Linked DNA regions of Homo sapiens: region 1 is linked to region 2. The links come from fine-mapping of genetic effects on gene expression. A gene starts in region 2. The other region holds a variant in brackets. All regions are shown on one strand. Distances are from middle to middle.

The links.
Region 1: its variant is fine-mapped to the expression of ZFAND4 in whole blood (INTERVAL, PIP above 0.99).

Annotation. Positions count from the first base shown.
Region 1 is chr10:45,630,330-45,646,456 of GRCh38, reverse strand. ZFAND4 (zinc finger AN1-type containing 4) reads left to right here. Exons shown (of 10, transcript NM_174890.4): 6 at 6,494-6,641. Among named protein-coding and RNA genes, the nearest start is that of ZFAND4, 34 kb to the left of the region's middle. The variant C/T (reference allele first, on the strand shown) is at 7,892.
Region 2 is chr10:45,664,843-45,680,969 of GRCh38, reverse strand. It overlaps ZFAND4 (zinc finger AN1-type containing 4), which reads left to right and starts at 8,198. Exons shown (of 10, transcript NM_174890.4): 1 at 8,198-8,720. It also overlaps the pseudogene AGAP10P. RefSeq lists a silencer at 7,896-8,615.

The DNA.
Region 1 (16,127 bases), 35 kb after region 2:
ATTGGACAAGGAAAGGGATGGATGAATGAGAAAGAGGAGTAGAAAACAATCTGATCATACCATGAAGAACATTTATATTTCCTGTTCTAGAAGAGGCTTTCCTAGTCTACAACAGGGGTAGCAAACTTCTTCTGTAAAGGTGTGCAGATAGTAACTATTTTAGGATTTTTAGGCCAAGAGACAGCATCAAGGATATTAAATAGGTACTTATGTAACGAGAGAAAACAAATTTCCACAGAACTTTCACTAACAAAGTTCAAAATATAAGACTAACAATTGGGTACTTTTCTTCTGTTTGTACCACAGAATTCCAGAGAAGAATGGAATTCTTTTTCATGGGAATAACGTTTTACCTAATTGAGGTGGAAAGTTAGTGTTGCCCATCAAATTTGCAAAGTCAATTGCAAAAGTTCACTTGTTAGAGCTGATCTGTAATGAGATTTTATGTATTTTATCTTAGAAATTTTTTTTTCACACAGATAGGTACTGTCAGATGCTGATATCAGTCCATGAGCACATGCTTTTATTGAACATATTGATCATTTTTAAGGCGTTTATAAAATTCTATCAGATCTTCTCTTGGTGTTTGCCCTGGAAGCTCCTCAGTTGCACATTTAAATGAATTTTGAAATAGAACATTATTTGGAAATTGCACTGAGGTATAAAAACACTGCTAGACCTATAATTTGAGCTCGGAAATATATCTGCTGCAAATTTCTGTGGGAATAGAGATATCACTTAATTTCTACTTTTGAAAGCATGGGAATGATTGCAGCTTGCTGTTACGTGTAATTCAAACACTAGTTGTTGTTAACATGACATTATTGCAGTATATGTTTCACATATAAATATTGTTTTATTTTGTAATTTTAGGTTAAATTCATTATGAAACATTATGAAGTCCACAGTAAAAATTAATTTCCAAAGGCAATTTAAAAATTTAAAAAGTGTTTGTAATAGTAGTTAAGGCCAGTTCTTCTCATTCAGAGTTCCTGAGCTAAAAAAAACATAATAAAACTTTATTACCAGTAAGCCACCAAACTGATGATGGATAAGTCCATGAAACAATTGAAGTTTACCATTAACACTGCTGGTTTAATAACACAGGATAGACTCAGATATTTACCATGAAATACCTGCTGATGAATAATACAATGAATAACTGTAGACTTTAAAGACCTTACATGTTTAAAGGGCATGGTGGCTCACACCTGTAATCCCAGCACTTTTGGAAGGTGGGCGAATCTCTTGAGTCCGGGAGTTTGAGACAAGTCCGGGCAACACAGTGAAACTCCATCTGGAAAAAAATTAGCTGGGCCTGGTGGTGCACACCTGTAGTCCCAGCTACTTCGGAGGCTGTGGTGGGAGGATTGCTTGAGCCCAAGAGGTGGAGGTTGCAGTGAGCCGAGATCACACCACTGCACTCCAGCCTGGGTGACAGAGTGAGACCCCCTCTCAAAAAGACAAAAAAAAAAAAAAAAAGACCTTACATGTTCACTAACTATAAATTTGTCCAATAAGTTTTTTTCTGTTTCACACATCACCCCATCAGTTATAGCAGAGTTCACTTAAAGTTGTACTAAATTAGTATTTAGCAATTTATTTGAAAATATTCTCACCTGTAGTAGCTTCATGCAGACTATTCATAGGGGCCAACTCTTCAGTCACTTCAAACTTGGTATTGACGCCCTCAATAAACAATAACACAGAGCAATATGGGTAATATATGTCAGCTCATCAAAAAACAATCAGCTTTTTAAATCAGCTGTTGACATTACTTCCAATTCTATCAACTTTTTGAGAAATTGTCCCTGCTGGAAAAGTAATCTTTAAACAACTTTATTTTCTCAGGACATACTTCCTCAACTGCTGTGATCAATAGTGAATTAATTCACTATTGATGAGTAGCTTTCCTTGCTTGGCTAGCAGATATAAACATTCAGAAACTTCTTTGGTTTTATAGCTTCATTTTCATTTTTTATTTGTGTAAAGAAATTCTGCTGTGATGAGATATTCTACTGTAAATTTTCTAGTTTTTCTGACTGTTGCTTTCCTGAAAGTTGGGAATATTGTGATGAATGCCTAACCTGGTAATGTCTATTTATGCTGTTTTCCTTTAGCATAGCTATAGTGTCACTGCATTATAAGCATCATGCTTTGCTATCTAATTGCTAACAAATAATCCACTCTACGGTACCTTAAAATGGCAACATTTGAAGTCTACTTTTCTTGTTTGACAAGGTTGGGTATACCCTAGTAATAAAAAAAGTCACAGAATAGCAATATACATGGCAGTCAAAATACTGTTGAATTATGACTATGTTACTGTGATTTGTAGTTCTCCATATCACAGTGTAGAGCAACGAGAGAGCCACATAAAGTCTGTCATAGCTACTCAACTCTGCCATTGTAGGCAAAAGCAGCCATTTGTAATACATGATTGGGTGAATATGGCTTTGTTCCAATAAAACTTTATTTATGGACACAAATTTGAATTTTATTTAATTTTCATTTGTTATGAAATACCATTATTTTGAGTTTTTTCAACTAATTAAAGTTCATAAACCATTCTTAGCTCATGGGCCACACAGAAATAGAAATAGGTGGTGGGGCAGATTTGACCCATGACCATGGTTTGCTGGCTTCTACTCTAAAAAGAAAGAGGGAGAATTGAGTGTTAATTTGTTTCATTCTGATACAAAATGCAGCATCAGTCTTTTTTTAGTCTCAAATCTTTTTAGTGGATCATGCCACCTTACTGGTATTTTTTTTTTTTTTTTTTTTTTTGAGATGGAGTCTTGCTCTGTCACCCAGGCTGGAGTGCAGTGGCACGATCTTGGCTCACTGCAACCTCTGCCTCCCAGATTCAAGCGATTCTCTTGCCTCAGCCTCCCAAGTAGCTGGGACTACAGGCGCCCGCCACCATGCCCAGCTAATTTTTTGTATTTTTAGCAGAGACGGGGTTTCACCGTGTTAGCCAGGATGGTCTTGATCTCCCGTCCTGGTGATCCGCCCACCTCGGCCTCCCAAAGTGCTGGGATTACAGGCATGAGCCACTGTGCCCGGCCTGGGATTTTTTAAGCAGAAAGATAGATAAGGAGACATTGTAAGACTTAATGGTAAACTGTGAAAGTTAAATGAGGTCTTGGCTTTGCGATGTGCAGATTTCATGCTTGAATAATATTACATTTGCCTATCTTGTATCCTTTAATCATATCATTAAATCAAAAGATTTGAGGCCGGGCGTGGTGGCTCATGCCTGTAATCCCAGCACTTTGGGAGGCAGAGGCAGGCGGATCACCTGAGGTCAGGAGTTTGAGACCAGTCTGACCAACATGGAGAAACCGCATCTCTACTAAAAATGCAAAATTAGCCGGGCGTGATGGTGCATGCCTGTAATCCCAGCTACTAGGGAGGCTGAGGCAGGAGAAAGGGCGCTTGAACCCGGGAGGTGGAGGTTGCGGTGAGCCGAGATTGCACCATTGCACTCCAGCCTGGGCAACAAGAGTGAAACTCTGTCTCAAAAAAAAAAAAAAAAAAAAAAAAGATTTGGAGAAATTACATATAGCACTAAAAAAAATTTAGAAATTCAAGGAAATGTTATATTATATTTAAATATAAAGAAAGTCATTTCGGATTAAATTTATAAATTAGTATGTTAACCTAGTTACATTTTTTCATCTGAAAAAAATTTGTGATTGGATTCTAACTCATCTCATGAATCTATACTTCATGAGAGAAAACAAAATAATGTGGTTCTTTGAAAAAAAAAGGTGAATTTAAAAGTGTTTTTATACTCTAAAATGAGTCCAGTGATTTATCATGATTGTTCTTTTTTTTTTTTTTTTTGAGATGGAGTCTCACTCTGTCGCCCAGGCTGGAGTGCACTGGTGTGATCTCGGCTCACTTGCAAGCTCTGCCTCCCGGGTTCACGCCATTCTCCTGCCTCAGCCTCCTGAGTAGCTGGGACTACAGGCACCCGCCACCACGCCCGGCGAATTTTTTGTATTTTTAGTAGAGATGGGGTTTCACCATGTTAGCCAGGATGGTCTCGATCTCCTGACCTCGTGATCCACCCGCCTCGGCCTCCCAAAGTGCTGGGATTACAGGCGTGAGCCATCACGCCCAGCTGATTGTTCTTTTATATATATATATATGTGTGTATGTATGTGTGTGTATATATGTATCTATTCCATGAGAGAATAGGTCTTTTCATGACAGTAATGTTGAATCAGAAACTTCTTTCAGTATTCAGTAAAGATACTTAAAATGCCACAGAGTAACTCAGAAGTATTTAAGGTTAAAATATTGCAAGGTAACTGAGAATAGTGTATACTTGAGTTATTCCTTCTAACTCCACAGGGTGACATGACGAAAATCTTCATGCACCCTTCTTCAGGTATTGTATAGTTGGCCTTGAGACAAAAGCCTTCACACAGTAGAAGTTCTGGCACTCATCTGGGTGCACAAGCATGATGCAGTAAGTCCTGTCATTTGGTGCCTGGGGAAGCAATGAGTAGTAGTAGGAAGAATCAGCTTAGGAACCAGACACATAGGGGATTTGAATCTTAGGTCTGCTGTCTATAGCTTTCTGATCTTGAGCCAAATCACTTAACCTCTCTCACCTGCAGTTTCTTCATTAATAAAATCAGCTATAATATCTACCTTATGTAGTTTTGTGAGAATTAGGAATAATGTGTGGGAAGTGCCTGGCAGAGCAGGCATTCAGTAAATGGCAGGCAATATTATTACTTCAGTGTTGTACTTGTGTCAGTTATCATACTGTGGTAGCCATGCTGTAGTAGGTAACTGTGGCTGTCACAAGTCAAGCACCACAGACTGAATTGGTTGTGGAGACCAGTCCTACATTCTTCCTTCAGATGCTACCCATGCGTATAGTGCGTGTAATTAACCCACAGTTTCAGAACATTTCATGTTGCACCATATAAAATTTAGGAATGGGGCTGTCTGCTCTCTTTTTTGGCCTTGTGTGACAATATGTGCTTCAGAAACATTAAGGAATATACCCCATTAAGGCTGTCCTAAATTGTTTCCATTTCTTACAACCATATAAAACGGGAAATTTTCCTCATACTTCCATAGTGTAGATAACCTAGTTTTCCTATAAGTAAATCTGCATAGAAACTAATATGTATTCTTATTTTGCTTTATTTAAAGTCTTAATTGTTTTCCAAATGTGCCAAGCTTGTGTTTTATCAAATCCTTGCCATTCTAATTTTCCCATTATAGAAAAAATAAATTAAATTTCAAAATCTTTGTGTTCAGTTCATCAAACATTTATTGGCTATGTGCCAAGCGCTGTGCCTGGTGCAGACTCAGAAGATAAAGTCTAATGTCTGCTTTCAACTTGCTTACATGTGGGAGAATAAGGGGCAAAACAAACATGTAAGTATAAATATGAGGATCGTGTGATACATCATTATATTATACAATCAAAGAGGAAGGGCTCCAAATATTAATTACATTGAAATATGAATAACGTCGCTGTGGTTGATCAGTAATTGAAATGTTTAACCTGTTTAATAGCTTGTATCATGACTTGACTGGATGTGTTTTTTCTTGTTAAAATCTATGCTAGTCTAGGTTTTTACATTTTCAAACACACTTAGAAAAATTTGAAGTTATCTCTACTTAAAAAAATGTATTGGCTGGGCGCGGTGGCTCACACCTACAATCCCAGCACTTTGGGAGGCCGAGGTAGGCGGATCACGAGGTCAGGAGATTGAGACTGTCCTGGCTAACACAGTGAAACCCTGTCTCTACTAAAAATACAAAAAATTATCTGGGCATGGTGGCACACACCTGTAGTCCCAGCTACTTGGGAGGCTGAGGCAGGAGAATCGCTTGAACCCGGGAGGCAGAGGTTGCAGTGAGCCGAGATTGTGCCATTGCACTCCAGCCTGGCGACAAGAGTGAGACTGTCTCAAGAAAAAAAAAATGTTTTTTGCTCCTTAAGAATAGAAAATGTTCTGATGACACCTGTGTATGAATTCTTTTTTTTTTTTTTTTTTTAGTGAGAATCTCCTCAGGATGACTAAAAATCTGTACTTCTCTCCCGTGCCAAATTTAAAAAAATTCTGATTCATGGAAATCTCATCAGCCTGTTGTCTGGGTTGCACAATTATCAGCCTTGGCTGATAAAATGAAATCAGACATTCTCATGGAAATGGATTTTGCCTCTTTGGGAATGATATGGCAGGTGTCAAAACATCTTCATTTATGATATACTGAATTCAGAGAAGCTCAGCTATACTAGATTTTCAGTAATCCTAGATCATAATATTTATTCCCATTTCATTTTTTCTTTTAAGAAGTACATTCTTTGAAATATATTTTCCTGACATTAACATTGACAAAATGGATGTAGTGTTTTATCATTAGTAACTTCTATAGATTGCTGTTTCATATAGAGCATTTTTAGTCACTGAGCAGGTATCAGAAAAATTTCAAGTAGTTATTGTTTTCTTTGCAGTGGTGGTTCTATGTATAATTCAGATACAGATGAGGATGAAGAAACTGAGCCTTCTTCTTCTGGGCAACAGATAATTGAAAATTCAATAACTATGAATAAGATGAAGCTGCTGAAGGCTAAGATGAAGAACATGAATCTCAGCAAAAAGGTGAAGCTGTTGGCATTTGACCAGGCTTATCTCTAGCTTACCCCTGCAGAGCACTCAGCAATGAGGTCTGTTGGTCATTGTGAAAAAATTATAAAGTATTATTCATTTCAGGTTTCTGGCCTCAGTTATTTATTAAACTTCTAAAAGGGATAAATTGGATTTTTTGGATTAGAAGCACACCTGAAGGGATTATACTGCACTTAACATCATTTTAAAGATCATTCTGGGTCTAAGAAGGATAAAAAAAGAGAGCTTAATCTTAATCTGGCAATAATTACTTTTTAAAATATGTTAATATTTATTTATTATGGATAAAGATATCTACTATTTAGTAGATAGTGCCAGTTTTTTCCAAAGTGATTGAACCAATTTACATTCTTTACAACAGTGAATGAGAGTTGCCATTTTCCCATATTCTTACCAGTATTTGGCATGGTCCTTTGTAATTTTTGTAATCCTACTTTGTTTGTGGTGGCATCACATTGTGGTTTTAATTGCATTTCTCTCATGAGACCTGGAAGGTTGAGCACCTTTCATATGTTTATTGGGCATTTGGATACCCTTTTTAATAAAACACCTATATTTTTCCATTTTTCTATTGGGTTGTATGTTTTTTGTTACAGATTTTTTTTGGAGTTTTATATATATTCTAGATAAAAGTCCTTTGTTTCATATTACCACTTTATTGCTTTCCTTTTTACTCTATTAATGGCTCCCTTCCTTTTCATGTATAATAAAATTCAAAAATCTTTAATATACTACTTGACGAATTTTTACATTTATATACACTCATGTAGACACAACCCAAATTAAAATAGGACCTTTCACTCCAGAATGTTTCCTCATAATATTTCCCAGTTAATACGTACCTGTTCCTACTCTCAGAAATAACGACTGTTCTTACATCTATTACCGTAAATACGTTTTTCCTATTCCTGAAATTTATATAAATGGAATCATAGAGAGTATGGTCTGGTTTCTTTTGTTAAAAGTATTTGTTTGATTTATCCATGTGGTTGTATGTATCAGTTAATTCTTTTTTATTGTTGTGTACTATTGTACTGTGTGATTGATTTACCTCAATTTGCTTCTTTCTTTTCCTTTTGATGGACATTTGAGTTGTCTCTAGCTTTTGGCTTTTATCAATAAACTTCCTTTGAATATTCTCATACATTCTTTGGTGGACATAGCACTTGTTTCTTTGGAGCATATACCTAGCAATGGACTTTCGGAGTCAGAGGGAAGATGCA[C/T]GTTTAACTTTAGTATTATGCCAGACAATTTTGCCAAGCATTTTTTGGTTTTTTTGTTTTTTTGTTTTTTGTTTTTTTTCTTTTTTGAGACAGAGTCTTGCTCTGTCACCCAGGCGCTATCTCGGCTCACTGCAAGCTCTGCCTCCCGGGTTCACGCCATTGTCCTGCCTCAGCCTCCTGAGTAGCTGAGACCACAGGCGCCCGCCACTACGCCGGGCTAATTTTTTTTTTTTTTTTTGTATTTTTAGTAGAGACGGGGTTTCACCGTATTAGCCAAGTTGGTCTCGATCTCCTGACCTCATGATCTGACTGCCTCGACCTCCCAAAGTGCTGGGATTACAGACATGAGCCACCGCGCCCGGCCAATTTTGCCAAGCATTTGAACCAATTTACATTCTTCCCAGCAACGTGAGAGTTCTAGTTTATGCCACATTCTTGTCAACACTTGATATTGTCAGTCCTTTTAATTTTAACCATTCTGGTGACTGTGTAAATGGTTTTCTTTTATATTTCTCTAATGAGGAATAATATTGACTTTTCATATGATTATTGACCATTAAGATACGTTTTTTATGTGAAGTGCCTGTTCAAGTCTTTTGCTTATTTTTAAATTGAGTTCTCTGCCTTTTGCTTACTGATTTCTAGGCATCTTTATATACTATGGGTACAAGTCCTTTGTCAGATATATGGGTTGCAGATACTTCTAACACTCTATGGTGGCTTGTTCTTTTACTTTCTTATTCTTTGGGTGAATGTTTTTAATTGTATTCTAATTTATCAGTTTTGTTTTGTTTTGTTTTGTTTTGTTTTGTTTTTGAGACAGAGTCTCGCCCTGTTGCCCAGGCTGGAGTGCAGTGGTGTGATCTCTGCTCACTGCAACCTCCACCTCCTGGGTTCAAGCAATTCTTCTGCCCCAGCCTCCCAAATAGCTGGGATTACGGGTGCGCATCTCCACGCCCGGCTAATTTTTGTATTTTTAGTAGAGACGGGGTTTCACCTTGTTGGTCAGGCTGGTCTTGAACTTCTGACCTTGTCATCTGCCTGCCTCGGCCTCCCAAAGTGCTGGGATTACAGGCATGAGTCACTGCACCCAGCTTACTTTTATGATTATCATTTTTGATAACCTTTTGATGAAATATTTTCCTACCACAGGTCTTTAAAGCTTTATGATTGTTTTTCTCTCACTTAGGTTTAGTCCAGCTGAAATTTTTTTTTTTTTTTTTTTTGAGACGGAGTCTTGCTGTGTCTCCAGGGTGGACTGCAGTGGCACAATATTGGCCCACTGCAACCTCCACCTCCTTGGTTCAAGTGATTCTCGTGCCTCAGCCTCCTGAGTAGCTGGGACTACAGGCATGTGCCACCATGCCCGGCTATTTTTTGTATTTTTAGTAGAGATGGGGTTTTGCCATGTTGGCCAGGCTGGTCTCAAACTCCTGACCTCAGGTAGTCCTCCCACCTTGGCCTCCCAAAGTGTTGGGATTACAGGAGCGAGCCACCGCGCCCAGCTGAAATTTTTCTGATATAACGTAAAGTGGGGTAAAGATCTTTTTTTTTTTTTTTTCTGATGGGGAACAATTGACTTAGCTCTATTAAGAAAAAACATCCTTTCTTCACAGTCCTAAATGTTTATGCACTTAATAATAGAACTTCAAAATACATGAAGCAAAAACTACAAAGAAATAAACAAATACTTTTGTTGAAAGATTTCTACATCCCACTCTCAAAAATCGATGGAACAGATAGAAAATCAGTGAAGGATTTAGGAGACTTGAACAACACTAATCAACCTACTTGACCCAACTGACATTTACAGTATGCTCTACCCAAAACAGCAGAGTACACATTTCTTTTTAAGTGCATGTAGAACATTTACCAGGGTAAACCATATTGTGTGCCATAAAACAGGTTCAATTTTCTTTTTTTTTTTTTGAGACAGAATCTTGCTCTGTCCCTCAAACTGAAGTTCAGTGGCACAATCTTGGCTCACTACAATCTCCACCTCCCAGGTTTAAGCGATTGTCTTACCTCAGCCTCCTGAGTAGCTGGGACGACAGGCTCATGCCACCATGCCTGGCTAATTTTTTGTATTTTTAGTAGAGACGGGGTTTCACCATGTTGGTCAGGTTGGTCTTGAACTCCTGACCTCAAGCAATCCACCTGTCTTGGCCTCCCAAAGTGCTGGGATTACAGGTATGAGTCACTGCGCCTAGACCAGTTTCAAATAAATTATAAAAGATTCCAAATAATACAAAAATGCTCTCTGATTACAATGGAATAAAATTAGAAATTAATAATAGATATGTGGAAAGCTTTCTGATATTTGAAAATAACACACTTCTAAGTAACTGATAGTCAAGAAGTCCAAAGAGAAGTAAGTATTTTTTCACTGAATAAAAATATTCTGATATTGTGATGAACTGATTTTTTAAAAATATAAAATAGTCTTGCATTGTTAGAATGAACCATTCTTGGTTGTGATGTATTTTTCATTTCTTTAGATTTAAATTATTAATATTTTCTTTAGGATTTTTGCATTACGATTTCATTCATGAGAGAAATTTTGATCTATATTTTTCTTTTCCAATATACAGTAAGGTTGAAAGAATTTTACCATGAACACTTATTTATCTAATATCTAGATTCTACCATTAAAATTTTTTAAATTTTATTTTTGTGGTAAAATACATATGTCATAAAATTATCTTAACCATCTTAAGTGTACAAACAGTTCAGTAATGTTAAGTGTATAACACAGTGTTGTGCAACCAATCTCCAGAAGTTTTTTGTCTTGTAAAATTGTCATAACGTGTCAGAATTTCCTTCCTTTTTAAGGCTGGATAATATTTCATTGTATGGCTATATACCACACTTTTTTAATCCATTCATTCCTCAATGTATACTTGGATTGCCCCCATCTTTTGGCTATTGTGAATAATGGTGCTATGAACATAAGTATACAAATATGTCTTTGAGACCCTACTTTCAATGTTTTCTTTTAGTAGTTTCATAGTTTCAGATCTTAGAGTTAAGTCTTTAGTTCATTTAGATTTGATTTTTGTATATGGTAAAAGATAAGGGGTCTAATTTCATTCTTCTGCATGTGGATCCAGTTTTCCCAACATTATTTATTGAAGAGACTATCCTTTCCCCAGTGTATGTTCTTGGCATCTTTATCAAAAATAAGTTCACTGTGGGTCTGTGGACTTGTTTCTGGGTTCTCTGTTCTTTTCCATTGGTTGTGCATCTATGTTCATGTCAGTACTGTGCTGTTTTGGTTACTGTAGCTCTGTAGTATAATTTAAAGTCACATAATTGTGATTCTTCCAGTTTTTTTTTGTTTGTTTTTTTTTTGTTTTTTTTTTTTTTTTTTGCTTAGATGGCTTTGACTATTCTGTGTCTTTTGTGGTTCCATGTAAATTTTAGGATTATTTTTTCTGTTTCTGTGAAAAATGTCATTGGTATTTTGATAGAGATTATGTTGAATTTGTAGATTGCGTTGGGCAGTATGGACATTTTAACAATATTAATTCTTCCAACTCATGAACATGGAATATTTTTTCATATTTTTGTGTCGTCCAATGTTTTATAGCTTTCATTATAGAGATCTTTCACTTTTTTAGATAAGTTTATTCCTAGGTATTTTATTTTACTTTATTTGTAGCTATTGTAAATGAGATTACTTTCTTGATTTTTTTAGATTATTGTTGGTATATAGAAATGCTACTGGGTTTTGTATGTTGATTTTGTATCCCGCAACTTTACTGAATGTGTTTATCAGTTCTAATCGTTTTTTGGTGCAGTCTTTCTGTTTTTCCAAATACAAGATCATATTATCTGCAATCAAGGATAATTTGACTTCCTTCTTTCAAATTTGTATGCCCTTTATTTCTTTCTCTTGTCTGATTTCTCCAGCTAGGACTTCTAGTACTAGTACTTCTTTTCATTTAGGGTTCCTGATGATAATTCTCTCAGCATTTGTCTGAAAACTTATTTTACCTTTTTAATTTTGAGAAATGTTTAATTCTTTTTTTTTTTTTTTGAGATGGAGTCTTGCTGTTGCCCAGGCTGGAGTGCAGTGGTGTGGTCTCGGCTCACTGCAACCTCCACCTCCTGGGTTCAAGCGATTCTCCTCCCTCAGCTTCCCGAGTAGCAGTAGCTAGGACTACAGGCATGAGCCACCATGCCCAACTAATTTTTGTATTTTTAATAGAGATGGGGTTTCACCATGTTGGCCAGAATGGTCTTGATCTCTTGACCCCGTGATCTGCCTGCCTCGGCCTCCCAAGGTGCTGGGATTACAGGCATGAGCCACCGCGCCTGGCTGAGAAATGTTTAATTATTTAGAAATGTTATAAGACTAGATTCATCAATTAATATTTTCCCACATTTGCTTTCTGTTTGGATTTTTCTTTAGCTGATCTATGTGCAAGTTAGATATCATGACACTTCCCCTAAGTACTTTATTTATTATGTATCTCCTAAGAATAAGGGCCACCTTTTACATGATTATGATACAGTTACCATACTCATTTATGATTGATACACATTATGTCATCTATATTCATATTTCCCAGGTCTTAATAATGTGCTTAATAGCATTTTATATTGTTTTTAATCTGGGATCCAATCAAGAATGATGCATTGCATTTCGTTGTAATGTTTTCATAGTCTCCTTTTATACAAAACTGTTTCTAAGCCTTATTTGGACATGCATGTAAAATATTTTTGAAGAATATAGATCAGTTGTTTTGTAAAATATTCTTCAATTTGGAGATTTGGCTGTTTCATTATGATTAGATGGAATTTGAACATTTTTGGTAGGAATACTACACAGATGATTTATTCTTCTCAGTGCAACACATCAGAAGGCACATAATGTTAATTTGTAGTAGTTTCTTTTTCGTTTTTTTTTTTAAAGAAAATTTGCAATTTTAGTTGGTATTTCCTCATTAGTCCAAGAGTATTTTAATATATTTTGAAAATGTTCTGGTGGCAGAGGCTTTTTGGTTTTTCTTTTTCTTTTCTTTTCTTGTTTTTAGAGGTGGGAGTCTCACTATGTTACTGAACTCCTGGGACCAAGGGATCTTCTCATTTCAGCCTCCCACGTAGCTGGGACTATGTGTGCAGCACCATGCCGGGCTTGATTTTTCATTGTTTTTAATTTCTAGTTTTATTGCATGGAACTCAGAGAATATTGTTTGTATTTCTACTTTATAGCATTTTATTCTTTGGGATCTAATAGCACTTTTCATGAATATATACCTCAGAAGACAGTTTATTCTCTATCAAAAAGGTAAAAGTTTGCTAGATATTTATAAGATAGACCTTATTAAAGTTTTTTTTTTTTTTTGTCAACTTGATCTGTCTTAGAATGAGAATGGTAATAGATGAAGGTCTATTATTCATAGGTTTCTGTGTATTTCTCTTTTCATTTCTCATACTTTTTGCTGTAAGAAAGTGGTAGTTGTGTAATTTGGTACATAAATATTAATAACATATTTTCACTGTGTTGCTAGTTACAAAAGTAGTGAAATGTTTCATCTCTATCACATTCACTGACTTTCCCCTTGAATTTTCCTTGCCTGATATCAGGCCCATACCTACTGGTATCTTCTTGGTTTCATTTGCTTGGTATACCTTTTCCCATGTCTCTATTTATTAACTTTTAAGTTACTTTGTTTTACATATTTCCTTTATATACACTATAGAGTTGGTTTTTGCTTTGTGAGCCAGCTTGAAATTTTAAAACAGGTAACTTAATCACGTTTATATTTATTGATATGACTTCATATTTGGTCTTAAATGTCTTATTTTGTTATACTTACAGTTTCCTTCTCTATGCTTTCTTTTGTGTGTATCTGTATATATGAATGTGTAAGGGTGTATTTTTTGGTATTTCAGAAGGCTTTTGCATTTTGTTTTATTGATTCACTTTACATTAATACTATTTATCATGTTCTTGATCTGCCTTTTCCTTATTTAACCTTCTCCTCTTTTATTTGCCAGCTTTAAATATCCTTTGACTCCTAATTACTAAGTGAAAATCAGTGAACTTATTTTTTTCTCTTCTCTCTTCATCCTCTCATTAAAAATTTTTTTCTACTTTTTTAAAGAAAACATAGCCTTTACAAATCATTTTTCTTTCTACTCACTCTTATTTTAGTTTTAATTTTATTCCATCCTTTTTATTTATTCACTTATTTATTTTGAGATGGAGTCTTGCCCTGTCACCCAGGCTGGAGTGCAATGGCACGATCTTGGCTCACTGCAACCTGTGCCTCCTGGGTTCAAGCAATTCTCCTGCCTCAGTCTTCTGAGTAGCTAGGATTACAGGCGTGTGCCACCACACCCGGCTAATTTTTTTTTTGTATCTTTACTAGAGACGGGGTTTCACCATGTTGGCCAGGCTGGTCTCGAACTCCTGACCTTGTGATCCACCCACCTTGGCCTCCCAAAGTGCTGGGATTACAGGCATGAGCCACCATGCCCGGCCAATTGTATTCCATTCTTATGATCAGTCTTTTTGCTGTAGGTTTCCCCATACATTTTGGTTAGAAGAAGCTCATCTGAAGTCCTCAAGAAAGGCTTGTAGGTACAGTAATTCTTGAATTTTTCGATGTTCAAACCCTTTTCTTTAGACTTAACATTTTTATTTGTTTTTACCATTATGTATGATATTAATTGTAGGTTTTTCTTCTATTTTTGTATTTTCCTATTTTCATTGATACGTAATAGATATATTTTCAGGGTACATGTGATAATTTAATACATGAATATAATTTGTAAACATCAGATCAGTGTAATTGGGATATCCATAACCTTAAATATTCATCTTTTTTTAATGCTAGAAACATTAGCCTTAATCCTTACATGATGGCTTGCCTGGATATAAAATGTTTGGTTCACATCTTTTCCCTTGAGTTTGTCTAAAATGTTGCTCTGCTATGCTTTGCTTTTTATATTGCCATTGAGAAATCTAATTACCAATCTTTCTTTTCTCTGTAAATGATTTGGTTTTTTTGTCTGGAGAAAATGAGGATTTTTTTTTCTTTTAAATGTAGTGGTTTTATTAGGATGTATCTTGGAATTAACTCTTCAGGGTCAATTTTCACTATACACTTGAGTCTTTTTAACATAAAGATTCAAGTCTTTTATTTCAGGATTATTTCTTAGAATTTATATGTTTTTTTTTTTTAGTACTTTATTTGTTTTTTTGTTTGTTTTCTTTTTTGGAATTTTTTTTTTTTGGGGGGCGGAGTCTTGCTGTGTTGCCCAGGCTGGAGTGCAGTGGCATGATCTCGGCGCACTGCAAGCTCCGCCTCCCAGGTTCACGCCATTCTCCCGCCTCTGCCTCCGGAGTAGCTGGACTACAGGCGCCCGTCACCACACCCAGCTAATTTTTTGTATTTTTAGTAGAGACAGGGTTTCACCGTGTTAGCCAGGATGGTCTCGATCTCCTGACCTGGTGATCCGCCCGCCTCGGCCTTCCAAAGTGCTAGGATTACAGACGTGAGCCACCGCGCCCGGCCTTTGGAGCTTATTTTATACATAAGTTAGAACATCGTCGTGGTCTTTTCTTTCTTTCTTTCTTTTTTTTTTTTTTTAAAGACAGGGTCTTGCAGTGTCACCCAGGCTGGAGTGCCATAGCCTGAGCTCACTGCAGCCTCGAACTCCTGGGCTCAAGTGACCTTCCTGCCTCAGCGGCATGAGATACCCCCTCTGCCCTGTTAGAACTTCTTTGTCTAATATACAACCACCTTCTCTCTTATCCTTTTAGATTCTTTATTTTATTTTTATTCTTTTGGCTGTTTTCATACCTTTCCTCAGTATTTTTGTTTTTGAGATGGAGTCTTGCTGTGTCGCCCAGGCTGGAGTGCAGTGGTGCGATCTTGGCTCGCTGCAAGCTTTGTCTTCCGGGTTCATGCCAATTCTCCTGCCTCAGCCTCCTGAGCTGGGACTACAGGTGCCTGCCACCACGCCCGGCTAATTTTTTTATATTTTTAGTAGAGACAGGATTTCACCCTCTTAGCCAGGATGGTCTCGATCTCCTGACCTCGTGATCCGCCTCGGCCTCCCAAAGTGCTGGGATTACAGGTGTGAGCCACCGCACCCGGCCTATACCTTTTCTCAGTATTCTTTATTAAATATTAAGTAGAATTTTAGTCTCCTGTGGGCACCTTGTAATTTAGTCTTCATTTCTGAGATGATTTTGTTTTCTGCAGAGTATTTCTGGGTT
Region 2 (16,127 bases):
TATTCTAAAGCAATCCTTAAATATCTTGAAATGTGAAGATAGTACTTCCAAGTTACAAAGTCACACTCATAATGAGTCTTAATTATCCTACCTCTTTAAAAATTAAGAGCGCAACCAAAGTTTAAATAGAAGAGCTATAAGACATTTCCTCTACAGTGATGAAATCTCTGGCATTTAAATGAAACCAATAAGCCTACTGGATGTAATATGTTTATGATGCAATGTTTTCTATTTTGAAAATTTCAGTTTTTATTCAAGAACCATATTATTACCCAGAATTACTTTTACTTAGATTCATCTCTTTGCAAAATTTTAGAGGCAAACCAACTAATTGTTTTCTCTTTTCTACCGGCTCCCATCCCCTGCCTCTGCCAGCAGTGTAGAGACTAAAAAACTCCAACTTTCTTTCCTTTTTTTTTTTTGTGAGACGGAGTCTCGCTCTGTCACCCAGGCTGGAGTGCATTGGCGTGATCTCTGCTCACTGCAACCTCCACCTCCCAGGTCCAAGCAATTCTCCTGCCTCAGCCTTGTGAGTAGCTGGAACTACAGTCATGTGCCACTACGCCCAGCTAATTTTTGTATTTTTTTTTTAGTAGAGACAGCGTTTCACCATGTTGGCCAGGCTGGTCTGGAACTCCTGACCTCAGGTGATCCGCCTGCCACGGCCTCCCAAAGTGCTGGGATTACAGGCGTGAGCCACCAAGCCCAGCCAAAACTGTAACTTTCTTATCTTTGAACAAGATGCTATTGTCAGGAGGGGAAGGGACAAAGGGGGAGCCATGGCAACAAACACTCTTACAGGGAAGGTCTGACATTTTAACCTGCAATCTTTATATTACACATTGAAAGTCTACATTGACGTTTCATGTCTTTTGAAAGTTTTGACCATGAACCAATCCCCACCTCTCTTTTAGAACAAGGAGGTAAATAAAGTCTGTTAAGTCACCAGAATAAATCTGGAGACACATTTTCTGTTAAAGTAAGAATTTTAAAGTAATCAGAGCCTCATAGGTAAACTCCTTTGAGAAACCCCAAACACACACACACAACCATTTTTCTGCAGCCCCGGCTGTGACATTTCACACCTTTCACAATTATTTTAAGCACTCTCCTTTTTTCTTTTTCCTTCTGTGTTCAAATTACAGTTAGAAGAAACTAAGCAGCTTCTATCAAGGTGACTTAAAGCAGCCCATTAAGAATACCATATAGCCTCTCCCGTGGCAAACTCCATTCTGATTTTAAATAAGAAATCCCCAAATATTTGAATAGGAACTGTCCTGAGATTTGACTACTTTAACAAAGGAAACAATTAGGCACTTACCTGGTTCCTTCACTTAGGTACCATCTGGATAGGTACAAAGAAAAAATAAGATGGGTACTGAAAAGTTGGGATATTTGAGTTTTTATTGAGAAAAGGAAGAGAATAGCTCAAAGAAGCCTAAACAAAGTCCCACAGGATAATAAACAGAGCTACAGACACTGTTGTCTCACCATCTGTTTGAGAGTTCCTCTGGAATATTGTGCTTGCCTCTGGATTGGCAGAAAGGTTAAACTCCAAAGCTATATGTATAGAGGGAGAAAAGAAAAAAGATGTAATCATTTATAAAAATTTATCAACTCATTTATTCAACTGCTGCTTATTCGACAAGAGCCATAAATAAATGGTCCCATGCCAGCCTGGGAGAATGAGGTGAGAGAGCAAGAACTGGGCGATTGGGAGGGGAGGCGAAAAGAAACTGACTGGACTTGGTGGGGAAAGACTAAGGGGTGGGAATTCAAGGCAGAGCCAGCTTTTGTTCCTGGCCAGCCCCCGGAAAAGCTGGCTACAAGCAGAAAGGAGCTCAAAGTGGGGGATGCCTCAAAGGGAACCTTGGGGACAGCAGCAGCCAGAGGCAAACCGAGGGTAGATGGCACCTATCACCTCCTTACCTTCAGGCATCTCCCGGTCACGAACGTGGTGCATGTGGAGGTCCTCACCAACTTCAACAGTCACCTCAGCAGGCTGCACAGCAGCAGCCATGGGCGCTCCTGCCATCCTGTCCCCAGCTACTGCCTCATAGATCTCAGATTCAGAGGGACACACCGACCCCTGTTGCTGGTCAAACTCGAGGCTGACGCTAGGGTGCACACGACAGGTCAGTATGTTCCCCATGGGGTGCCTCTACTGTCTGCCACCACCTGTGCCTCTGCTCACAGCTTTGGCCACGCACTCCCGCTGTCCTAGGCCGAGGCTATGCTGCACTTGCAGAGATGGTCTTCCCGCTCCTCGCCTGCCCACCTCACAGCGCGGCCCCGGGCACCAGCCCTGGCCCTGGCCCTGGCCCTGGCCCTGGCCAAGGCCCGCACCCTGCTGCCTCCCCTGAGTTGACTTGTCTGGGAGGGTGAAGACCAGCCGGCTTATTTAATAGGTTGTGAACCCAACAAGTGCTGAGAGACACAACAACTGCCTGAAGAGAGAACAGACGGAGCTCCTCCTCCTTCTGTAGTCACCTACAGACTGAAGCCCACTGGCCCCAGGTGGGAGCCCAGGCATGTGGCACACAATGCCCCACCCCACACTTCACAATGCCCTCCCCGACAGCTCACAGTGCCCCACCCTGCCTGCCACCCCTCCCCAACAGCTCAGAATGCCCCTGCCTTGGCTGCCCCACCCTGCGGCTTATGATGCTGCTGCTCTCCTGGCCCCTCGTGCAGTGCCAGTGGGACTAAGGTTTTCATTCATCACCAGCTTCCTGAGATTTTAGTCCTAAGAAAAGCACAGGGTAGTTCATTCCTTGAAGCCATCTTCCTCTATGAGTTCTATACAAAGCCTCAGTAGAGTGGGTCCCATTAGCAACCAAGTTGAACAACTTTTATTTGCTGTCTGAATATAGATACACCTGAATTGTTGACTGCTTTTGTAACTAAACACTCCTCTCCTGTCTTCCAACGAGTGGTCATTTTTGTCCGCAACTTGACCACAGCAATCCCTGGGGCCCTAGCGCTACTCTCAATAAAGAGTTATGGCTGTGTGTTTTGAATGACACCTTAGGACCCATCCTGCCTCCACCTCCTTCTCCATAAAATGGAAACCTAACTTGTCCCTCTCCAAGCTCTGAAATGCTGAAACTTACCAACTCCCTTTTCTCCCCGCTATTTCTTCCTTCCGTGGCAGGGACTTTCAGGTTTTCTTTCTTTTACTAACAAGGCACTAAGCATGATTTTCTCATACAAAATCGAGAGCCATAAAGTGGCTTACCACAGTCCTATTTCAATAAAGATGAATACTCGACATCTGGCAAGTAGTGTGTGCCTGACACTGTGCTATGCTCATTTAACCCTCAGAAACAATGTCATTTTACAGATTTTACTGAAGGAGTTGAGATGGAGAAGGTAAGTAACCTCCCCAAGGTCACATGGCTGCTAAGGTTGGGGCCACAATTTGATCCCAGGTAGTCTGAATTCCCCAATTCCTGAAGCATGATTATCGGAAAGCACATTAGTCTGTTTCACACTGATATAAAGAAATACCTGAGGTTGGATAATTTATAAAGGAAACAGGTTTAATTGATTCACAGTTTCGCATGGCTGGGTAGGCTTCAGGAAACTTACAATCATGGCAGAAGGGGAACCAGGTCCGACTTACATGGTGGCCGCACAGAGAGTGGGAACATGTGAAGGAGCAACTGTCAAACATGTGTAAAACCATCAGATCTCAGCTGGGCTTGGTGGCTCACACTTGTAACCCTGGTACTTTGGGAGGCCAAAGCAGGTGGATCAACTGAGGTCAGGAGTTCGAGACCAGCCTAGCTAACTTAGTGAAATCCCGTCTCTACTAAAAATACAAAAATTAGCTGGGTGTGGTGGCGCATGCCCGTAATCCCAGCTACTCAGGAGGCTGAGGCAGGAGAATCACTGGAACCCAGGAGGCAGAGGCTGCAGTGAGCCAAGATCGCGCCATGGTACTGCAGTCTGGGTGACAGAGCAAGACTCCATCCAAAAAACAAAACAAAACAAAACCCTATAAGATCTCATGAGGACTTACTGAATATCACAAGAACAGCATGAGGATAACTGCCCCCGTGATCCAATCACCTCCCCCTAGGCCCCTCCCTCGACACATCAGGATTATGGGGATTATAATTCATGATGAGATGTGGGTGGGGGGACATGGCAAAACCATATCAGAAAGTAAAGGTAGAAGTCAAGCTTGAACAGGAAATGACATTGTAGATTACTATTTTTTTTTTCTTTTTTTTTGAGATGAAGTTTTGCTCTTGTTGCCCAATGAAGTTGTTTTTCTAATTTCATTTTCAGATTGTGTCTTGCAGATGTGTAGAAATACAATTGATAAATGATTCTGGCTATTAACCTTTGATGCTTCAACCTTGCTGAACATGTTTTTTTTTTTTTTTTTTTGAGACGGAGTTTAGCTCTTGTTGCCCAGACTGGTGGCATGATCTTGGCTCACCACAACCTCCGCCTCCCGGGCTCAAGAGATTCTTCTGCCTCAGCCTCCCTAGTAGCTGGGATTACAGGTATGTGCCACCATGCCCGGCTAATTTTGTATTTTTAGTAGAGATAGGGTTTCTCCATGTTGGTCAGGCTGGTCTCGAACTCCCGACCTCAGGTTATCCGTCCACCTCGGCCTCCTAAAGTGCTGGGATTACAGGCATGAGCCACCGTGCCCGGCCAAATCTGCTTATTTTTAAGCTTTTTGATGCTTTTCTGTTTTGTTTCAGTTTTTTTTCCTATTTATTAATACAAGTTCTTTAGGTATTTTGGATAATTGTTAAAAAGCTTTTTAATTTGTTCATTGGTTTCTTTGCTGTGAAGGTTTTCAATTTGGCATTGTCCCATGTTTAGTTTGGCTTTTCATGTCTCCACTTTTGTGACATATTCTGTAAATTATTGTCAAGATCAATACCTAGAAACTTCTAGACAAAAACCTAAAAGAAAAGTTTTCTCATTTCAGGTCTTACACTTAAATGTTGTTTTTTGATTTTTTTTTTTTTGGAGACAGAGTCTCGCTCTGTTGCCCAGGCTGGAGTGCAGTGGTGCGATCTCGACTCACTGCAGCCTTCGCCTCCCGGGTTCAAGTGATTCTCCTGCCTTAGCCTCCTGAGTAGCTGGGACTATAGGCACGCGCTACCACGCCCAGCTAATTTTTGTGCTTTTAGTAGAGACAGGGTTTTGCCATGTTGGCCAGGATGTTCTCGACCTCCTGACCTTGTGATCCACCCGCCTCCGCTTCCCAAAGTGCTGGGATTACAGTCATGAGCCACCACGCTTGGCCACATTTAAATCTTTAATAAATTTTTATTGGATTTTCGTTTGGCAAACTATGCTACCCCCCCCCCCCCACTGTCTGATCTTGTTAATAAAGTTTTATTGGAACACAACCACATTCATTGATTTACTTACTTTCTATTGTTGCTTTCACCCTACCTCCAATGTAAGAGTTGAGTAATTATGACGAGACCGGATGGCTCACAGAGCCTCAGATGTTTTCTATCTGCCCCTTTTATTTATTTTTTTGAGACGGAGTCTTGCTCTGTCACCCAGGCTGGAGTGCAGTCATGTGATCTTGGCTCACTGCAACCTCTATTTCCTGGGTTGAAGCGATGCTCCTGCCTCAGCCTCCCGAGTAGCTGGGATTACAGGCGCCTGCCATCACACCCAGCTAATTTTTGTATTTTTAGTAGAGTTGGGGTTTCACCATGTTGGCCAGGTTGGTCTTGAACTCCTGACCTCGTGATCCACCTGCCTCGGCCTCCCAAAGTGCGGGGATAACAGGCGTGAGCCACTGCGCCTGGCCCTGCCCCTTTACATAAACAGTTCGCTGACCATTGCTCTAAGGCATTCTGTTCCATTCTTGCCTTGTGGAAGCAGCAGAATGAACCTAGGTAATAGCCGGGGGAAGTGCTGAGGATAGAAATGTCAGCCTCTAGAGCAGCACTGCCCCATAGAACTCTGCAGGAATGAAAATTTTCTTTATCTGCATCGTCAAAGGCAGTAGCCACTAGCCACCTGGATGGCTGACCCCATTCTAGTCTGTGTTTTTTGGTGCTCTGTCGTCTTGCTGCTGACTATTCAGCCTGTCACCATGGTGCAGTCTTGTAGGCCGCCCAGGTTGGTCTCAGCGATCCTGGAGCTACTGACTTCTTCCTTGGGCACTGTAAGATCAGACAGGGAATTACTCATACCCAGAGTCAAAGATTTTGTTCAGCTCCCACAGGTCAACCATTTGCCCAAGTCTGCTGTGAGAGTGACGTGATGACAGATGAGGGCACTTGCTAGTTGGCCACTCCTTTCCCCTATTCATTTTATGCATCTTCCTTCTGTCCGTAGGTTATTTGTGCACATAGTTTCTTGCTGTAGTACCCAATGTCGGTCAGAGTCAGCATTTGTTAAATACGATGATTTTCTTTTGGAACAACTAAATCTACTCATCAATCAGTAGGATTGGTTTCAGGGGATTCAGGAGACAACAGGTTTAGAAAATACGCAAGCTGCTATTTTGAGAGGCTTGAAAGGGAGAGAGAACTTACGTTAAAAAAAAGTTCCTATGGTAACAACTTTTAATGCTATTTTATTCAGTCTCCATGGTCTATCAGATAGGTAATGTAGTAACACTAATTTTACAGATAAAGCTAAAATCTGGAAGCAATGTGGAATAATGGAACAAGGTTGGATTTTTGTATTGTGTCCTAGTTTAAATATGGCTTTCCGACATAGAGCTGTTTGATTATAGGTAAATTGTTCTACTTTAATTGGCTTTTGTTTACTCCTTTGTAGACGAGGGATTTCACTACCAACTTTGCAGGATTGTGATGGGGAGAGAATACGTAAAGACCCTTATCAACTATCTGGCACTTGAAGAATGGCAGATGATAATGATGATGATGTTGTAAAGAATGAATGACTTGGCCAGGTAATGGAGCTTCTGGTATTGGGAGGCAAGGCTTTAAACACACCTGCCTGACTCCACGGTCCATGCTGTCAATTCTCCAGTGTGAATGAAGTGGGCAGGCAAGGGTGAGAAACGCTAAGGTTTTTACTCAGTAAGTCTCCATCACAGGCCCTATTCTAGGCTCAGGAATGCAAAGATGATTACCATCATAGCTCTGTCCTCAAAGGTCTCCAATCTATTTAGCATTAAGCATATGTGGAGTTTCAGAAGGAACCAACGGCGAGACTGGTGAATCAATGCCCAGTGCCTCACCATACTCCCCCAGTGTATGCTCAATAGTTCGTTGAACTGTGGAGATAAGTTGGTGGGTAGGGTCTCAGAAGAATGAGAGAGGACAGGAGACACAGATTAGATGTTTAGTTTCATATTAGACTGGCTCCTCTGAGCCAGAAGTCGAGGATGAGTGAACCCGCAGTGGGAGTGAGATGACATTCTTTGTCAGCTGAGTAACCCACTTAGTGAAGGAGGTTCACGGAGTTGGAAAATCGGTAGGGGGAACGGAACGAGGCAGTGGGCTCCCATGTTAGGTTGAAAGGCAGGTGTTGGCTTGAAGCCAGTTACTGTTTACACCGCAGCTCAGCAGCTTGGAAACTGGAGCAGGAGGTGTGGCTGGGCTTACCCAACGCTGGGATTTGAGCCCAGGGTGCCTACTCCATTGCCTGGCCTACAGTTCTCAGTAAATTGTATGAGGACTACAGAAAGTTATCTGTTTTCGCCTTTGTCTTCAAGCAGGCACGGTAATGCCCCCATTTTCCAGATGAGGCAATTGAGGCCAGAAACATTAGGGGACGGTGAAGCCTAAAGCAGATTTGTTAGGACAGGCCGGCCCAAACGCACCAGGAGCGCCCCTCACTCTGGAGAGGCCACCGACTGGACAGCGTCTGCCTGTATCGCCTATCTCCAGCAAATCAGGCGCCTGGAAGAGGATCCCCGGTGGGTCTCACGGAGGGCGGCTCCGGCTTCAACCCCGCCGTTCCCAGCAGGCCATGCGGCTGCCCTCCAGACGCCCGCGTGGGCACGAGTCAGGGGTCCAGTGTTGCTAGTAATAAAAGATCAACATCCGGGCCTCGTAACTCACAACCTCCAGCGAATGCCAAGAAGGCCCCAGGGCCCTGGCGCCCCGGCAACCGCCCACGTCCGGGGGCCAGGCCTGCCCCCGCCCGCGCTGATTGGAGGGCAGCGAAAGCGCCGTCCAGCGATTGGTAGGTGGTGTCACAAAGGGGCGGGGCGCGGCGGCAGCGGAGCGTTGTCGGCCAGTGCCTTCCGTGAAGTTGCTCGCCGGGTCGTTGGGCCCTGTCGACCTGTAGGCGGGCGAGCGAGCCAGCGGACAAGACTGCGGGTGAGGCTGAGCTAGCGAGCGGCCGGCAGGGGGGGCGCCCGGGCTGCGAGCCGCTGAGCCCAGCCGCGCTGCCGCCGCCGGCCGTCGTGGGGCCGGAATGGCGCAAGGCCGGAGTGGCGCGGGCGCTCGGCGCTGGGCTGCCGGGTAGAGTCCTGTCCCCGCCCCTCGCCTTGCGGCCTGACGCCGGCCGCTGCTGCCCGGGGACCGGAGCGGCGGGCCGCCTTTGCCCAGGACACACGCTCTGGCGTTTGTTCCTTTGGGCGTGACGCCAGCTTCAACGGGTACGCGGCTTTCCCGACGGGTGCTGATCTCCGAGTCGCTGTTGTCACGCGGACTGCTGTCCTCCAGATTCAGGCCGGTGGGTCTGGGGAGCCCGGATTGGTCTTGGAGGAGCAACGGCTGCGCAGGTGACTCGGTGGCCTCAAGTGTGTAGGTACCTGGATGGCGCGAGGAGATGCTGGCTCTGAAATACTTCCCAATTCCGCTTGCAGATGAACTCCGGACTAGAGTTTAGGCTACAGACAAGTTAGGCGGTTGATGTGATTCTGTAGCTCGTATTTCGAACTTTAGGGATGTTTTGATGTATCAGTAAATGTAGATCTGTGTCACAGTTTTAATGGCAGCTTCACATTCCGGATATCTTTATGTTGGGGAAAATGTTTCAAAGGTAACTGCTCTTCTGTAGCTAAGCTTCTTTAGAGCAGAGGTTGGAGAAAATTCTGAGTTACTGAAATTACGTATTCAGCGCTATTGCCTGTTTACCTTTAACTTCCATTTCATCCTTGGAGTTGTGTTTTTAGAAACTTTTCAGAAGAAATGAGAGAAATGCTTTGGGAATTGATTTTTTTTTTTTTTTTAAGTTCTAGGGTACATGTGCACAACGTGCAGGTTTGGTACATAGCTATACATGTGCCATGTTGGTTTTCTGCACCGACTAACTCGTCATTTATATTGCGTATTTCTCTTAATGCTATCCCTCCCCCCATCTCACTCCCCACGACAGGCCCCAGTGTGTGATGTTCCCCTCCCTGTGTCCAAGTGTTCTCATTGTTGAGTTCCCATCTATGAGTGAGAACATGGCGGTGTTTGGTTTTCTGTCCTTGTGACAGTTTGCTGAGAATGATGGTTTCCAGCTTCATCCATGTCCATGCAAAGGACATGAACTCATCCTTTTTTTATGGCTGCATAGTATTCCATGGTGTATATGTGCCACATATTCTTAATCCACTCTATCACTGATGGACATTTGGGTTGGTTCCAAGTCTTTGCTGTTGTGAATTGTGCCACAGTAAACATACGTGTGCATGTGTCTTTATAGTGGCATGATTTATAATCCTTTGGGTATATACCCAGTAATGGGATCGCTGGGTCAAATGGTATTTCTAGTTCTAGATCCTTGAGGAATTGCCACACTGTTTTCCACAACGGTTGAACTAATTTACAGTCCCACCAACAGTGTAAAAGTGTTCCTATTTCTACACATCCTCTCCAGCATCTGTTGTTTCCTAACTTTCTAATGATCGCCATTCTAACTGGTGTGAGATGGTATCTCACTGTGGTTTTGATTTGCATTTTTCTGATGACCAGTGATGATGAGTGTTTTTTCATGTGTCTGTTGGCTGCATAAATATCTTCTTTTGAGAACTGTCTGTTCATATCCTTTGCCCACTTTTTGATGCGGTTGTTTTTTTCTTGAAAATTTGTCTAAGTTCTTTGTAGATTCTGGATATTAGCCCTCTGTCAGATGGGTAGATTGCAAAATTTTTTTCCCATTCTGTAGGTTGCCTGTTCACTCTGATGGTAGTTTCTTTTGCTGTGCAGAAGCTCTTTAGTTTAATTAGATCCCATTTGTCTATTTTGGCTTTTGTTGCCATTGCTTTTGGTGTTTTAGTCATGAAGTCCGTGCTCATGCCTATGTCCTGAATGGTATTGCCTAGGTTTTCTTCTAGGGTTTTTATGGTTTCAGGTCTAACATTTAAGTCTTTAATCCATCTTGAATTAATTTTTGTATAAGGTGTAAGGAAGGGATCCAGTTTCAGCTTTCTACATATGGCTAGCCAGTTTTCCCAGCACCATTTATTAAATAGGGAATCATTTCCCTACGTCTTGTTTTTGTCAGGTTTGTCAAAGATGGTTGTAGGCTGGGCACAGTGGCTTACGCCTGTAATCCCAGCACTTTGGGAGGCCGAGGCAGGCGGATCACCTGAGGTTGAGAGTTTGAGACCAGCCTGACGAACATGGAGAAACCCCTGTTGGGAGAAATCTCTACTAAAAATGCAAAAAAATTAGCCGGGCGTGGTGGCACATGCCTGTAATCCCAGCTACTAGGGAGGCTGAGGCAGGAGAATCACTTGAATCTGGGAGGCGGAGGTTGTGGTGAGCCAAGATCACACCATTGCACTCCAGCCTGGGCAACAAAAGTGAAACTCCGTCTCAAAAAAAAAAAAAAAAAATCAGATAGTTGTGATTTTTGCACATTGATTTTGTACCCTGAGACTTTGCTTAAGTTGTTTATCAGCTTAAGGAGATTTTGGGTTGGGACGATGGGGTTTTCTAAATGTATAATCATGTCATCTGCAAACAGGGACAATTTGACTTCCTCTTTTCCTAATTGAATATCCTTTATTTCTGTCTCCTGTCTGATTGCTCTGGCCAGAACTTCCAACACTGTGTTAAATAGGAGTGGTGAGAGAGGGCATCCCTGTCTTGTGCCGGTTTTCAAAGGGAATGCTTCCAGTTTTTGCCCATTCACTATGATATTGGCTGTGAGTTTGTCATAAATAGCTCTTATTATTTTGAGATACGTTCCATCAATACCTAGTTTATTAAGAGTTTTTAGCATGAAGAGCTGTTGGATTTTGTCAAAGGCCTTTTCTGCATCTATTAAGATAATCATGTGGTTTTTGTCATTGGCTCTGTTTATGTGATGGATTATATTTATTGATTTGCCTGTATTGAACCAGCCTTGCATCCCAGGGATGAGGCCGACTTGATCATAGTGGATAAGCTTTTTGATGTGCTGCTGGATTCGGTGTGCCAGTATTTTATTGAGGATTTTCGCATAGATGTTCATCAGGGATACTGGTCTAAAATTCTCTTTTTTTGTTGTGTGTCTGCCAGGCTTTGGTATCAGGATGATGCTGGCCTCATAAAATGAGTTAGGGAGGATTCCCTCTTTTTCTATTGATTGGAATAGTTTCAGAAGGAATGGTACCAGCTCCTCTTTGTACCCCTGGTAGAATTTGGCTGTGAATCCATCTGGACCTGGACTTTTTTTGTTGGTAGGCTATTAATTATTGCCTCAATTTCAGAGCCTGTTATTGGTTTCTTCAGAGATTCCACTTCTTCCTGGTTTAGTCCTGGGAAGGTATATGTGTCCAGGAATTTATCAATTTCTTCTAGATTTTCCAGTTTATTTGTGTAGAGGTGTTTATGGTATTCTCTGATGGTAGTTTGTATTTCTGTGGGATCGCTGGTGATATCCCCTTTATCTTTTTTTATTGCATCTATTTGATTCTTTAGTCTTACTAACAATCTATCAATTTTGTTGATCTTTTCAAAAAACCAGCTCTCAGATTCATTGATTTTTTGAAGGGATTTTTGTGTCTCTATTTCCTTCAGTTCTGCTCTGATCTTAGTTATTTCTTGCCTCCTGCTAGCTTTTGAATTTGTTTGCTCTTGCTTCTCTAGTTCTTTTAATTGTGATTTTAGGGTGTCAATTTTAGATCTTTCCTGCTTTCTCTTGTGGGCATTTAGTGCTATAAATTTCCCTGTACACACTGCTTTAAATGTGTCCCAGAGATTCTGGTGCGTTGTGTCTTTGTTCTCATTGGTTTCAAAGAACATCTTTATTTCTGCCTTCATTTCGTTATTTACCCAGTAGTCATTCAGGAGCAGGTTGTTCAGTTTCCATGTAGTTGTGCAGTTTTGAGTGAGTTTCTTAATCCTGAGTTATAATTTGATTGCACTGTGGTCTGAGAGACAGTTTGTTGTGATTTCTGTTGTTTTACATTTGCTAAGGAGTGCTTTACTTCCAGCTATGTGGTCAACTTTGGAATAAGTGCGATGTGGTGCTGAGAAGAATTTGCCAGACATTAAAATGTCTTTTAATTGGGGCATTTAGCCCACTCACATGTAAGGCTAATATTGTTATGTGTGAATTTGATCCTGTCTTTATGATGTTAGCTGGTTATTTTGCCCATTAATTGTTGCAGTTTCTTCACAGCATCAATGGTCTTTACCATTTGGCATGTTTTTGCAGTGGCTGGTACCGGTTGTTCCTTTCCATGTTTAGTGTTTCCTTCAGGAGCTCTTGTAAGGCAGGCCTGGTGGTGACAAAATCTCTCAGCATTTGCTTGTCTGTAAAGGATTTTATTTCTCCTTCACTTACGAAGCTTAGTTTGGCTAAGGCCAATATTACCCTGATACCAAATCCTGACAGACATAATGAAAACTACAGATCATCATCTCTTGTGATTATAGACACAGAAATCCTGAGGAAATATTTTCAGATCAAATCCATCAACATATGTAAAGGATTACATACCAGGTACAAATGGGATTTACCCCAGTAATGCAAGATTGATTTGACACATAAAAAGTAATGTAATATGTGAATAAAAAAGTAAAGAAAACCAAATGATTATTTCAATAGACAATGAAAAAAGCGTTTGATAAAATTGGCACCCCTTCATGATTAAAAAGAAAACCCACCTAAAGCAGGAATAGAAGGGAAGCTCGTCAACCTTATATTGGTAATCTATGAAAACCCCACGGTTAACATTATACCTAAAGACTCAATGGTTTCCTTCTACAATCAAGAATTAGACAAGGATGTCCAGTCTCACCACTTTTATTCAATCTTGTACTGAAGGTTCCAGAGCAGGGCAATTAGGCAAGAAAGGGAAATAAGCCCAGTGCAGTGGCTCAGGCCTGTAATCCCAGCTCTTTGGGAGGCCAGGGTGGGTGGGTCACCTGAGGTCAGCAGTTCGAGACCAGCCTGGCCAACTTGGTAAAACCTTGTCTCTACTAAAAATACAAAAATTTGCCTGGTGTGGTGGCAGGTGCCTGTAATCCCAGCTATTTGGGAAGCTGAGACAGGCGAATCGCTTGAACTCGGGAGGCGGAGGTTACAATAAGCGGAGATCGTGCCATTTCACTTCAGCCCGGGCAACAGAGTGGGACTTTCACCCCCTCCAAAAAAAAAAAAAAAAAAAAAAAGAAAGAAAAGAGCATATAGATTAGAAAGGGAGAAGTAAAACTCTATTTGTAAATGACATGATCTTGTATATAGAGCTTTTATAGAGAGCGTTTAGGAAGATTTAAATAACTAAATGAACGAAATAAACAGTTCAGCACAGTTGCAGTGTACAGGATCAAGATATTAAAATCGGTTGTGTTTCTATAAACCAGCAATGAGCAATCTGTAAATAAGACAGTGATTCCATTTGTAATAGCATTTAAAGGAATAAAATACTTAGGAATAAATTTAATAAAAGAGAACAAAACTTGTGCTTTAAAAATTATAAAACATTGAAATAAATTAGATATAAACTGAAAAATAGTATGTATTTATGGATTAGAAGACTTAGTATTAAGATTGCAGTACTCTCCAAATCTACAGACTTAATACAATCCCTGTCAAAATCCCAGCTGACATTTTTGCAAAATGGGCATACTTAAAATTCATATGGCAATTCAAGGAGTCCAGAATAGCCAACAATCTAAAAAGAACAAATTGGAGGCCTCACACTTCCTGATTTCAGAACTTACTACAAAGCTACATTAATTAAGATGTGGTGGTACTGGCATAGGTAGATCAACAGAATAAAGAGTCTGGAAATAAACCTTCACATTTACAGTAAATTGGTTTTTAACAAGGATCCAAGACAATTCAATTGGGAATGAATGGTAATTCTGACAAATGATACTGGAACAACTGGTTATCCACATGCAAAAGAATAAAGTTAGACTCTACCTCACACCATACACAAAACTAAATTGAAATTGGACAGTACACCTAAACATAAGAGCTAAAACTACAATTTTTAGAAACATATATAAGTCAATCTTTATTACCTTGGGTTAAGCCAAGCTTTTTAAGTATGATAAAAGAAAAATAGCCAAATTAGAGTTTAACAAAATTAAAAACCTTTGTGTTTCAAAAGATACTATCAAAAGACAACCCACAAAATGAGAGAAAATATTTACCATTCATATATCTGTTAAGTGTTTTTATCTAGAATATGTAATATAAAAACTCATACAACTCAATAAAAAATCCAATTAAAAAATAGACAAAGTATATGAATAGGCATTTCTCCAAAGAATGTATGCAAATGGCCAATAATCACATAAAAAAGATGCACAATATCATTAGTTTTTAAAGAAATGGAAGTCAACCACAGTGAGATACTACTTCACACCCACTAGGATAGCTTTAATCAAAAGGACAGAAACAAGTATTGTCAAGGGTGTGGAGAAATTGGCACCCTCATTCATTGTTGATGGGACTATAAAATGATCCATACCATTTAGAAAACAGTTTGGTAGTTCCACAAATTGCCAAACATAAGAGTTACCACATTATCTAGCAAAGCTACTTCAAAGAGAAAGGAAAACATATGTTTACACAAAAACTTGCAGTTGAATGTTCATCTTAGCACTATATGTAACAGCCCAAAATTGGAAACGACTCAAATGCTCATCAACTGATGGATGGATAAACAACATGAGATATATTGCTACAGGGGACTATTATTCAGCAATAAAAAGGAGTGAAATACTGATATATCCTAGAACATGATGAACTTTGAAAACATTATGCTAAGTGAAAGAAGCCAGTCACAAAAAAATCATATATGATTCTATTTATGTGAAATGTCCAGAATAGACCAATTTGGAGATAGAAAGTAGATTAGTGGTTGCCTAGGGTTGAGTGGGGGACTGGGGGAATTTGGGAGTGTTGGTTACAGGGTATGGGGTTCCTTTTAGAGGTAATGAAAATTTTCTAAAGCAAATGTGGTGATTGTTGCACAACTCTGTGTACATCATAAAAACCAGTGAATTTTAGGCTTTAAATGAGTGAATTTTATGGCATGTGAATTATATTTCAATAAAGCTTTTTTTTTCTTATTTAATGATGGAGTCTTGCTCTGTCACCCAGGTTGGAGTGCAGTGGTGCAATCTTGGCTCACTGCAACCTCTGCCTCCTGGACTCAAGCGGTTCTCCTGCCTCAGCCTCCCGAGTAGCTGGGACTACAGGTGTGCGCCACCATTCCTGGCTAATTTTTGTATTTTTTGGTAGAGATGGGGTTTCGCCATTTTGGCCAGGCTGGTCTCGAACTCCTGACCTCAGGTGATCCGCCCACCTCGGCCTCCCAACGTGCTGGGATTACAGGTGTGAGCCACTGTGCCTGGCCCTCAATAAAGCTATTTTTAAAAAGGTTTAACCACCTCACCAGAAAGATGTGTATCATTTGTCCTAGTTTAAGTTCAAGGCCCCCCTGTATAGAGTTTTCACGATTAATAGCAATAGCAATTTGATCATTTTTGTGCTCCTAGTTCTATACTTGTCATTTAGTTTACTACTTCTATTTGTTGGGCTTACCACTCATACTTATTAGCCATTGTATGTATGTGAGCAGAGATTGTCTAATACTTATTACCAATTCTAATGTCATCTGAATGCTATAATATCCTCTGGAAACCGTTGATGATTTAGTGAGTACTACTTTTTTTTGTTTTTGAGACCAGAGTCTTGCTCTGTTGCCCAGGCTGGGGTGTTGTGGCGCAATCTCGGCTCACCGCAAGCTCTGCCTCCCGGGTTCACGCCAT